Regions from separate parts of the Homo sapiens genome. Here region 1 is linked to region 2. The links come from fine-mapping of genetic effects on gene expression. A gene starts in region 2. The other region holds a variant in brackets. All regions are shown on one strand. Distances are from middle to middle.

Region 1 (5,380 bases), 150 kb after region 2:
AGGTTGAGACCAGCCTGAGCAACAGAGCAAGACAAAATCTCTACCCAGAAAAAAAAGGAAAGAAAAGAAAAAAAATCTTAACATTAGCCAAATGTGGTGGCACACACCTGTAGTCCCAGCTACTTGGGAGACTGAGGCAGGAGGATTGCTTTAGACAGGAGTTTGAGGCTGCCTTGAACTATGTTCATGCTATTGCACTCCAGCCTGGGTGACAAAGCAAGACCCTGTCTCAGTTAAAAGAATAATACCAAGAGGAATCCCATAGAATTGTGGCTACTGGATGTAGAGTGGTCAGGGGACAGCGTCTTTGATATGATAATATTTGAATGAGTAGAGACCTGAAGGAAGTGAAGTGCTTGCCATGCACTGTCTGGGGAAAGAGTGTTCCACACCGAGGGGCAAGTATGTGCAAAGTTCCCAAGACAGGGATGTGCTTGGCATATTGTAGTCATAACTGGGAAACCAACGTGCCTGCAGTGTTGGTGAGCAAAAGGGAGAGTAGAAATAGATAAGACCAGAAAAGAAGAGGAAACTAAATCAGTTTTGTAGATCTCTAAATGAGATAAACCATTGGGAAGTTTTCATCCAATGAGGGATATGATTCTCCTGCATAGGTACTCTTGCAGCTGTGTGCAGAAAAAAAACTTTGGGAGTGCAAGAGAGCAACTAGGATGACTAGATCAGAGGCTATTGATATAGATCAACTAGAGAGATGCAGGTGTGGACTAGGCTGATGGTAGACATCAAGTTTGACTGCAAAGATTTTGGCTCGAGCATGGAAAGATAGGGATTCCATTTAATGAGGTGAACAAGACTTGGGAAGAATCAGATTTGGGGTAAAGATCAGGAGTTCTGTTTTGAACATGTTACTTTTGAGATGCCTATGAAGATGTCAAGAAGGCAGCTGGATACCTGAGTATGGATTTTAGAGGAGGACAAGTCCATGTTGGAGGCATAAGTGTGGGATTCTTCCAAGATGGTGATGTTAAATGTCATAGATGGAGAGCACTTAGAGAGGATGGAGTCAGAGAAGAGGCCTAGTACACATCAAACTTTAGCTTTTAGGGTTGAGGAGGAACCAGTCAAGGAGACTGAGAAGTAGTGGGCAAGGAGGAAGGAGGAAGACCTCATGAGACTTCAAGTAGAAAGTATTTCAAGGAGACAATGATCACTTTGGTTAAATGCCACTGGTAATCAAGGAAGAAGACAGCCAAGAATTGAAGACTGAATTTAGCAGTCATATAACAATGGATGGGGGTTATTGGTCCCAGATTCCCTGAAATGAGAAAACCAAGGTTCTGAGAAGTTAAATAAATTGAACAACCAAAATCACATAGCCACTTAGCCCCAGAAATGGGTCCAGAACTAAACACTGGACACAAGCCATCTGAATCTTGTTTCCTGAATCTCAGACCAGGACTTTTCTTCAATAACATGAGGTCATCCTTCTCATGGTAACCGTGATTCATTAGGGGGACTGGAAAAGAATATTAAGACTTTAAACAAAAGGAATAAACTTCAGTAGTAGAATGTCAATGACAGACAATGCTCAAAGGCCCTCAAATCAAATGAAACAGGCAGCCACAGCAACAAGGGAACACCCAAGTATCAAAACACACTTCAACATACAAAAAAGTTTACGGCCCCTCAAAAGAAATGATCTATTCGTTCTATTTTGCTAGATGATTTCTACATACATAAATACCCGAGGCCTGATTACCTTCACTTGGTTTCTTTACCAAATGCCAGAAATGGGGTAGGAGAGGATTTTAGTAAATCAAACTAATGTTTAGGCAGAACAAAGGCACAGGAAAGCCCTAAACCATTTAAGTATTAAAAACTACTTTTAATCGTCCCTACTGCTGCCCTCTAATCCACAACCACCACCAACCTAAGAGGGCTATGATTCCAAGAGCCGACTCTGTTGCAAACCTCCGCTGGACGGTTTTGCGGACTAGGAAGTGAAGATTTCCAGTGGGAGGAAGAGCGAAGAAGAGAAGGAGGTAGATAAGCTAGCGAAAAGAAGGAGGTAGACAAGCTAGCAAAGCGAAGGTGCAGAATAGGAAAGTTACCAGGACAGGGCAGGGAGTTCCTCATGTCCACAGCAGGCCTTGCTCCCCTGGCCGGAGCCCAGGGGAGGGAGACGGAGGAAGGCAGCCACTTTTCCAGTGAGAAGTTGAGCAAGGAGTTGGCACCCGGCCCTCTCTACCTCTAGAGAAAAGGTAAAAGCTAAGCTGGATCGCGTGGTAGAGAAGAGCCCACTTTCAGAGTCCAAGTGGCATTATCTTGGAGTTCAGTGTCTGCCTCCAGGGCTGCAACTAACTCCTCGCGCCTCCCTTGCCGCCTTTCCTCCCTGGAAAGAGGAGGTGAAAAAGGTCCCAGGGCTCGGGTGGGCATGACTGCCTGGCGCAGGCCGCCGGGGGATTACCTGATACCTCCGCGTCTCCCCAGAAGGCGCGGCGCCGCCCTCCAGCCCCACCCGGTCACTCCGCGGTCCCCAGGCTCTGGTGTCTGTCCAATCTCCGGGACTCGACGCCCGAGGCGGCCGCCCGCGAGACCCGGAGCACGA[G/T]CCTCACGCTCAACGTTAGGCACTGCTCAAGGCCGCCCGAGGAGCAGAGACACCTACTGGCCGAGCGCTCCTGCGGCGGCTGGGCTGGGCTGGGGGCCGGAGCCCAGAAAACAGGGCTCCGCACACCCCCTACCGGGCGGGCTCCATCTGCGCCCCAGCCGAGTCCCGGACCCGCGTCTTGGCAGGCTCACCTACCTTGAGGTTCCCAGCTCCTGTCATCCTGTGCGCAAGTGATTTCAGCAACCATCACCACAAAACCTAGTCGGAGGGTGGCTGGCTCACAGCCTCTCCACTTTTTCGGAGTTTGTGCCAAATAATTTAAAGACCCTCCCCACCCTTTTCCAAATTCTGGCGTTTGAGAAGGGAAAATCCAAAGGGATGAGGATATAGGAGCCCCTAAGTGCTCTCCCCAGAAGCCAGGGAATTGTATTTCTGTTTCTCCAGGGCCCTGAAGAACCTGGCTTTCTTGTAATTACAAATACCTTTCACTGAAAAGTGGCTTCTTTCCTCCTGCTCCCTGCCCTGTGACAGTCAGTCCCTCCCTGTTCTGTCCTGGTAACTTTCCTGCTCTGAGCCTTGTTCCTGTGCTAGCTTATCTATCTCTTTTTCTTCTCTTATCCCGCTCTTCCGCCTTTTGGAAATCTTCACTTGCTACTCTGCAAAACCATCGGAGCAAGGCCTGCTGCGGACATCAGGACCACTGCAAATATTTTTTTCCAGGTTCTGAGAGGGATGCAGAAGACGCAGGAGCTGACAGTCTAGTTAATTTTTAGCTGACAAAGTCTCTCTCTCTCTCTCTCTCTCTCTCTCTGTCTCCCTCTCTGTCTCTTTCTCTCTCTTTAACACCTATATTTGAGTAGTTTTGTTTCCATCAGCACTCTTGTCTTTCCTTCTAGTCCTTTAATCCTGACTCTCTTCCTGGATTGAACTTAGGGAGGCAAGAGTTTAAATTAGAAGCAGTAAAATTGTATAATAAAAGGAAGAAGACAAACCAGGCCTTGCTTCTTAACAGGATGACTAATACAGTTTATGGATTATCTGGGTAGTTACATGACTAATATTAACCATTAACAATTATTGAGTTCTTAATGCTGACCAGAAACTGTTTTAAGAGCTTTTTTATAATAATAGTAAAATCAGCTCTTATGTAATGTTTTAAATGTTTACATTTATTAACACATTAGACAAAACAACCCTATAAGATGGGTAATAATATTATTCCCTTTTTACAATTGAGGAAATTGAGACAAAGAAGCAGGAACATTTCCTAAGGTCACACAGCTAGAAGTAAGTTATAAAGCTGGAATTTAAGCCCCGACAGCCTGGTGGATCATTCAGGGTACTCTAGAGGGACAGGACTAATAGGATAGATGTATATATGATGTATATATGAAAGGGAGTTTATTAAGGAGAATTGACTCTCATAATCACAAGGTGAGTCCCACAATAGGCCATCTGCAAGCTGAGGAGCAAGGAAGTCAGTCTGATAAAAGGAAACAGGCACAGAGAGGCTAACTAATAGTCCAGGAACACAGAGCTACTAACTTGTACAGGCAAGATTAGAACAAGTGAGTCTGATCCTTAACTAACCATGGGAGGGAGATACTTTTTTCCTACATTCAGCCATACAGAGGGAGAAGGGATTGCCTAAAAAGGGTGTGATGCTTTCATAACCTTCAATTAGTGAGCCCAGCTGGGCTTGGTGGCTTTTGCCTATAATCTCAGCATTTGGGGAGTCCAAGGATTGCTTGAGGCCAGGAATTTGAAACCAATCTAGGCAACTAACAGGACAACATTGTGAGACCCTATCTCTACAAAACTAAAAAATTTAAAAAATTAGCTGGGCGTGGTGATGCATGCCTGTAGTCCCAGCTACATGGGAGGCTGAGGTGGGAGGATTGCTTGAGAACAGGAGTTTTAAGCTGCAGTGAGCTTTAATTGTGCCACAGCACAGCAGCCTGGGCGGCAGAGGGAGAGCTCATCTCTTAAACAATAACAAAAACAAAAACAGCCCCTTGTGTGATGGTTAAACAAATCCAGCCCCTTGATTAGATTGAAGGATGCAAAGCATTGATCCTGGGTGTGTCTGCGAGGGTGTTGCCAAAGGAGATTAACATTTGAGTCAGTGGACTGGGCAAGGCAGACCCACCCTCAATGTAGGTGGGCACCATCCAATCAGCTGCCAGCGCAGCTAGGATGAAAGCAGGCAGAGGAATGTGGAAGGAATAGAATGGCTGAGTCTTCTGGCCTTCATATTTCTCCCGTATTGGATGCTTCCTGCCCTAGAGCATCGGACTCCAAGTTCTTCAGCTTTTGGACTCTTGGACTTACACCAGTGGTTTGCCGGGGCTCTCAGGCCTTAGGCCACAGACTGAAGGCTGCACTTTCGGCTTCCCTACTTTTGAGGCTTTGGGACTCAGACTGACTTCCTTGCTCCTCAGCTTGCAGATGGCCTATTGTGGGACTTCACCTTGTGATTATGAGAGTCAGTTCTCCTTAATAAACTCCCTTTCATATATACATCATATATACATCTATCCTATTAGTCCTGTCCCTCTAGAGTACCCTGAATGATCCACCTGGGTTTCAGGCTGAGTCCCTGAGAGTCAAGGCCTGACGTTGAGCTGAACTGTCTGTTTAAGCAGCTCCTCCCTTCCTGCACTCTACTAGCAATGCCAAGAGCATAAAGAGCCCTTCGCCAAACTCAGGGCCAGACTAAGGTCCCGCTGTATTACCTACAGCTGAAACAACTGTTCCCTTAGGAGGCCAAGGCATAAAAAAAAAGCCTCCACAGTGGGGCACATGGTGTGG
Region 2 (5,380 bases):
ATTAAAGAATGAGAGCACATTTTATTGCTAGAAGTTAAATATATAATGGATAAAAGTTTTAATATTAAGTTTAAATTCTGAATGACTTAAAAATTGAACTATTTAAAAAAACTGTAACTAATACTTTTAAAAAATACTGCTTTGAACACAAAGGTGTATATGCTGTTTGAATTCAGGATAAAGATATCTACATATTCTTGTCCAAATTAAGTACACCATTCCTTACACAAGGTCCTTCATAATCTGTTATTTTAAATCTGTTACCAATTTGAACATAGAGATCACATTTTCTTGCCTCATCAATCATCGGGTAGTAAAATGAGAAATAACATTCGGCATTAATATGCAAATCTGGACAATTTTTACAGCAATTACTTGATTTGTAGTCACAAACTCTACTTAAACTGACATGTCTTCCTTCTCCTAACAATAAAATAACACCATTAAACCTGAGACTTAATTTCAGTCCATAAACTGGGTTTGTTCTCGTTATTAATAATTCTTGTTTCATAATATATCCAGTAATGCATATATTTTAAGTGTTGATATGTATTATATTTGGCAATAATATTCAAGTACATTACTCCAACCTCTTAAGTGAAAATCAGCAATCAAAGCAGTGCCTTAAGCAGAAAGCATTAATATTTAGTGATTGCAGGCAGCACTGTCATCTTTATGTCTATAAAGATGCAAACAAATTTTATTAACAATGCAAACAAATGCAGACAGATGCAAACAAAGTTTAAAGTAGAATGTTTTAAACGTGTGCCCTGAAAACAAGTCTATTATTAGACCCCCATAAGGAGATTCAATTCTGAAAAGATCCAAATGGAAGTCTGTCAAACTGTATATACATCGTGGTGATTCTTGAAACGAAAATATCTTCCCATTATTTAAATAAGCAAAATTCTACAGACCCTTGAACATGTCCTTTATATGTTATTCTCCTTATACACGCAACATATCCTGCTTCCTGGTTATAACGCCATTCTCAAACACAAAATCAGGCCAATTTTTAAGAGAAGCCAAGACTTAAAAAGCTCGGCGGCGATGGCTCACGCCTGTAATCCCAGCACTTGGGGAGGCCGAAGCGGGTGGATCATGAGGTCCAGAGATCGAGACCATCCTGGCCAACATGGTGAAACCCTGTCTCTACTAATACAAAAATCAGCTGTGCGTGGTGGCGCGCGCCTGTAGTCCCAGCTACTCCCGAGAGTTTGAGGCAGGAGAATCGCTTGAACCCGGTAGGCGGAAGTTGCAGTCAGCCGAGATCCTGCCACTGCTCTCCCGCCTGGGAGACAGAGCGAGACTCCGTCTCAAAACAAAACAAAAAACAAAACAAAAAAACTCCTTATGATATTTCCTCTTTGATATTTGCCTATATTAGGATTACCACATAACATAAAGGTTACGGGGAATTTATCAAGAATGTAAAGACAGTTAAAGCTTAAAGAACTTAAATATTACCTAAGCTAAATTTACATAGGAGAAAACTGGTGCCCAAATAAATCAAGCAGCTTCGCAATATCTCAGAATATCAACGCCAGGATTAAATGCCGCTGGTTCTGTGGTTTTTCCAGCAGCTCCAAAGAAACATTTTTAAATTAGGGGTTTAAAAACTACCAGATGTTAGGAAACAAAGGCGGTGCCACGACGTGTGCTGCCGTCCGTGTGTCGGGGGAGAGGCGAGCTATCTTCCCTGTGCACCCGCGGCCTCCCACTGCCCACAGCCCAGCACACACGAGGTACTCGGGGAAGAAACAGGGAGACAAAGGCAAAGTAAAGTTCGAGGCTCAGTCCCGGCTAGAACTCCACGCAAACGACTAGGAGCCCGCTAAAGCTCACCCAGCCTGAATTCAATTCTGAAACCAGACTGCTGAATCTCACCCAGCCGTCGGGACGCCCCAGACGGCGTCCAAAGCCTCCAGGGGACGCGCGGACCCTACAACGGCCAGGCAGCGGCCCGGGCCTGCAGCGGTCGTTGGTCGTCGGCGTAAGCGTGTCAGGAAAATAACACGAAATGCAGCACAGGTGGGAAGCGGCCGGAAGGCAGCGGGGGAGAGCGGAAATAAGGCGGAGAGCGCAGGGCGCCGCGGGGCGGAAGAGGCCGCCAGACGCCCCAAAGAGACTGGCCGCTGGGCCCTCACCATGCAGCGCCTGGGTGACGGCGAGGGCGCCTTCTGGCCGGATGCTGCCGGGGCAGGAAGCAGCGTCTCGGACACTTGCCCTCCCACTGCTCGACGGGGCTGGGGAAGGACGAGGGTGAACCCCGCAGCCACCGCCGCCAGCCCCCACTGTGTATTCGGCGTGAGAGTGAGCCGGGCACTATCCAGCCGTTAGCAGTGGTCTGGTAGTGACCCCGTTTCCCCTTTCCCCTCCTCACCCCTTCGGGTCTTCAAATGTTGGTCCTAAATCCCGGGGCCCAACGACCAAAAACCGCCGCCACCGTTTAGGGGACCAGTCGGTCAGAGCGAGGGGGGGTCGTCGCAGGGGGAGGGTAGCCCACCGGGACCGCTCGCGCTGGTCCTCGTGTCTCCACTCGTTTCCCAGCGCGCAGCGCGCGCGGTGGCCTAAGCAGCCCCACGAGGAGTGGTGCCTCATCCAATCAGGGATTAGCTTCGGGGCGGGGCGAGGAGGAGAGAGTGGGGCTAAAGTTTAAATGAGGCTCTTGGGCTAGTCAAAGTGCTTGGAGTGACAGGCATTTCGAGCAATTGGGGTGAAGAGAGCGATTTTTAGGGTGTGGGTGGGCACGGAATAATAAATGAAGGTCCTAGGTGCATTGTTTAGGTGTTTGAAGACGAGGGCTGCAGTGTGAAATTCCGCACTTAAGGGAAAACATAGATGCATCGTAATGGTTCTTTTTCTTGTTTGATGTAGTTTTCTTGTAAACTGCTAGTTTGGCGCAAAACAACCACATATATCCGGTGGACCTTTGAAATTAAGGGCTAGGGGGAGGTGGGTTATAAAGCTAAAAGATGGATTTGCAAATAGGACTAGAAGTATAAAGTATAAGTGGTTTAAATGACAATGACTAAGAAAATGGGTTAGATGAGGAGAACTAGCGATAGGCTTGACGCTACCACTAATCAGCTTGCAGGGACATTTGGCAGAGGCGAACTGCCGAACTGGGTTCTATGCTCTTGTAAAACCAACTTTCACAGATAGGGTTGTTTGGCATTCGGTATGCATAACTTCAGTTTTGCTTCCTTTGAAGACAGCTCGAAATTAAATGCAGACAAGGAAAGAAAAAACCACCTTTAGGAACCAACTATTTATGTATAGATAATATTAGATTCATGGAATATTAGACAATAAAGAACCTAGCTCATGTTGATTCTCTAATTAACAAGGAACTTCATGCCCAGAATATTCACCGAGTAACACAGATCTCCTTATTCCCAACCTCAAGGTGATTTCTTCCACATTAACTCCTAATGTATTTTCTCCATATATTCAAGGAACTAATGAATGTCTACCAATTTAAATTTTGTTAAAGTATATTTTTAATTTTTAAATATACTACAACAGTGAGGAATTAGCAGGGACTTTGGAGCCAGACAGACCCTGTTTAAAGTGGGGATTGTGAGAATAAAATAATATATGATATTACCAAATATTGAGCCAGATGCCAGAAACAATCCTAAGGACTTTTCATATTTTCATTTAATTCTCACAGTAACTTTGGTAAAGTTACTAGCCCTACTTTGCAGACGGGGAAACAGATGCAGAAACCTTAAGTAGTTTGGGCAAAGTCATATAGCAAGTAAGTGGCTCCAGTTTGAAACCTACAGACATAATTGCTATACTATACTGTCTCAAAATACGTCCAGAAACAAGTAGAAAACTTGGCATAGTACTTGATGCACACTGGAAGCTCAACAAATATTTTTTGTAAGCCGTCTGCCCTTTAGTCAATGAATACAAGTGTCATTTTATATAAGATGTATGCATTCAAAATAAAGCAACTAGAAAACCTAGACTGATAGATCTAGTTGGCTTTGTTTGACATGTCACCAATTCTGTACCTCGGGAACTGTGATTGTTATATTGATTACTATTTTTTGCTGCTCTTTTATTTCTCCAGAAAAAGATTCTCCTCATTCTTCATTTTCATGTCGGTACCTTCTCAATTCCTAGTAATTAATTCTAAATACATGTGTTTAAGGTTAAATTATCTGAAATGAGGTTAGGCATATTAGTGGCAATTTAAAACAAGTAATTTCTAGGAATGGCTGTAAGATCCTTAAGGAGTCACTAGGTGGAGATGTTGTGAGGTACAAAGATTGTTCTTGGAAATAGCCTGGAAGGTTGTTGAACATTGCTGGTTTTCTTGTTTCCCTTTTTGTCTTTTTTCTCCCCAAGTATAAAGAAAACCAAATAGACAAGGGCTTCTCAATAGGCATTACAGTCAGACCATAGAACCTTGCCATAGATGAGACAGTGTTGTTTAAAGACCCTTCCCATACTTAACATTGTATGTCATTTTGGTTAGATTTTGTCTAAGTTTTTATTATCCTAAAGTTTATTAATAGGTATACTTTTCAAATGCTATAAAAACTATTGTCTGCATGTACAATTAAAGAAATGACCTTTAACTTTATTTCTCAAGGCTCCCAGAGAAAGAGATCCAAAACACTTTTATCAGCTAGAATTCTTCAGTAACAGATTCCAAATTGGATTTGTTTTAAGATTATTTGAGCTTATGGGAAAAGGTGACCCAAATGAGTAAGAAGGAAGATGATAAGCAATGTAAAGGTGTTTGTGACTAAAAAGAAGTGTCGAAAGATACTTGGCATACAAGGGAGAAAATAGAAGGGGATCTCTGCAAACACCAGAAAGAGAAATAATAGTGACTGTGTGACATGGGAAGTAAAAGTTATCAATAAAAAATTGGAAGGAGCCGGGTGTGGTGGCACACACCTGTAGTCCTAACTACTTTGAGTTAGGCTGAGACAAGAGGATCACTTAAGCCCAGGAGTTTGAGGCTGCAGTGAGCTATGACCGTGCCACAGCACTCCAGCCTGGATGACAGAGCGAAACCCTGTCTCAAAAAAAAAAAAAAAAAAAAGGAAGAGATGCAAAATTCAAGTGGTTAAAAATAGTCTGAATACATGTATTTTCCCCATATAAAATGCAAGCTTTTATATCACTTAGAAGTTAAGATGCAAGCTTTTATATCACTTAGAAGTTATTTTCATATACATTCTGCAAAATACACCCCCTGACAAAGGAAAGAGAAGCAATGGGAAATCTTTAAAATGTTTAACATCCAACTTAGTCCTCTGTTCCATATAAATGAGCCTGTGCAGTGATCTGGTTTATTTTCCATGTGTTGGAGCTTCTTCAGCTTCCTTTATCACTGTGGCAGTGATATGACACA

Which allele goes with the higher level. Positions count from the first base shown, and alleles are read on the strand shown. Sizes are in standard deviations (SD) of each study's normalised expression.
For the expression in tibial nerve of the gene that starts at base 2,548 in region 2, G is the low allele of the variant in region 1 and T is the other (moderate effect, 0.47 SD a copy in GTEx).

Evidence for each region.
Region 1: its variant is fine-mapped to the expression of RBM46 in tibial nerve (GTEx, PIP above 0.99).

What each region holds. Positions count from the first base shown.
Region 1 is chr4:154,624,198-154,629,577 of GRCh38, reverse strand. LOC124900169 (a long non-coding RNA gene) reads right to left here and starts at 2,616. Exons shown (of 6, transcript XR_007058343.1): 1 at 2,429-2,616. RefSeq lists a silencer at 2,660-2,789. The variant G/T (reference allele first, on the strand shown) is at 2,570.
Region 2 is chr4:154,778,440-154,783,819 of GRCh38, reverse strand. RBM46 (RNA binding motif protein 46) reads right to left here and starts at 2,548. Exons shown (of 5, transcript NM_144979.5): 1 at 2,384-2,548. It overlaps LOC105377500 (a long non-coding RNA gene), which reads left to right and starts at 1,947. Exons shown (of 4, transcript NR_188451.1): 1 at 1,947-2,031.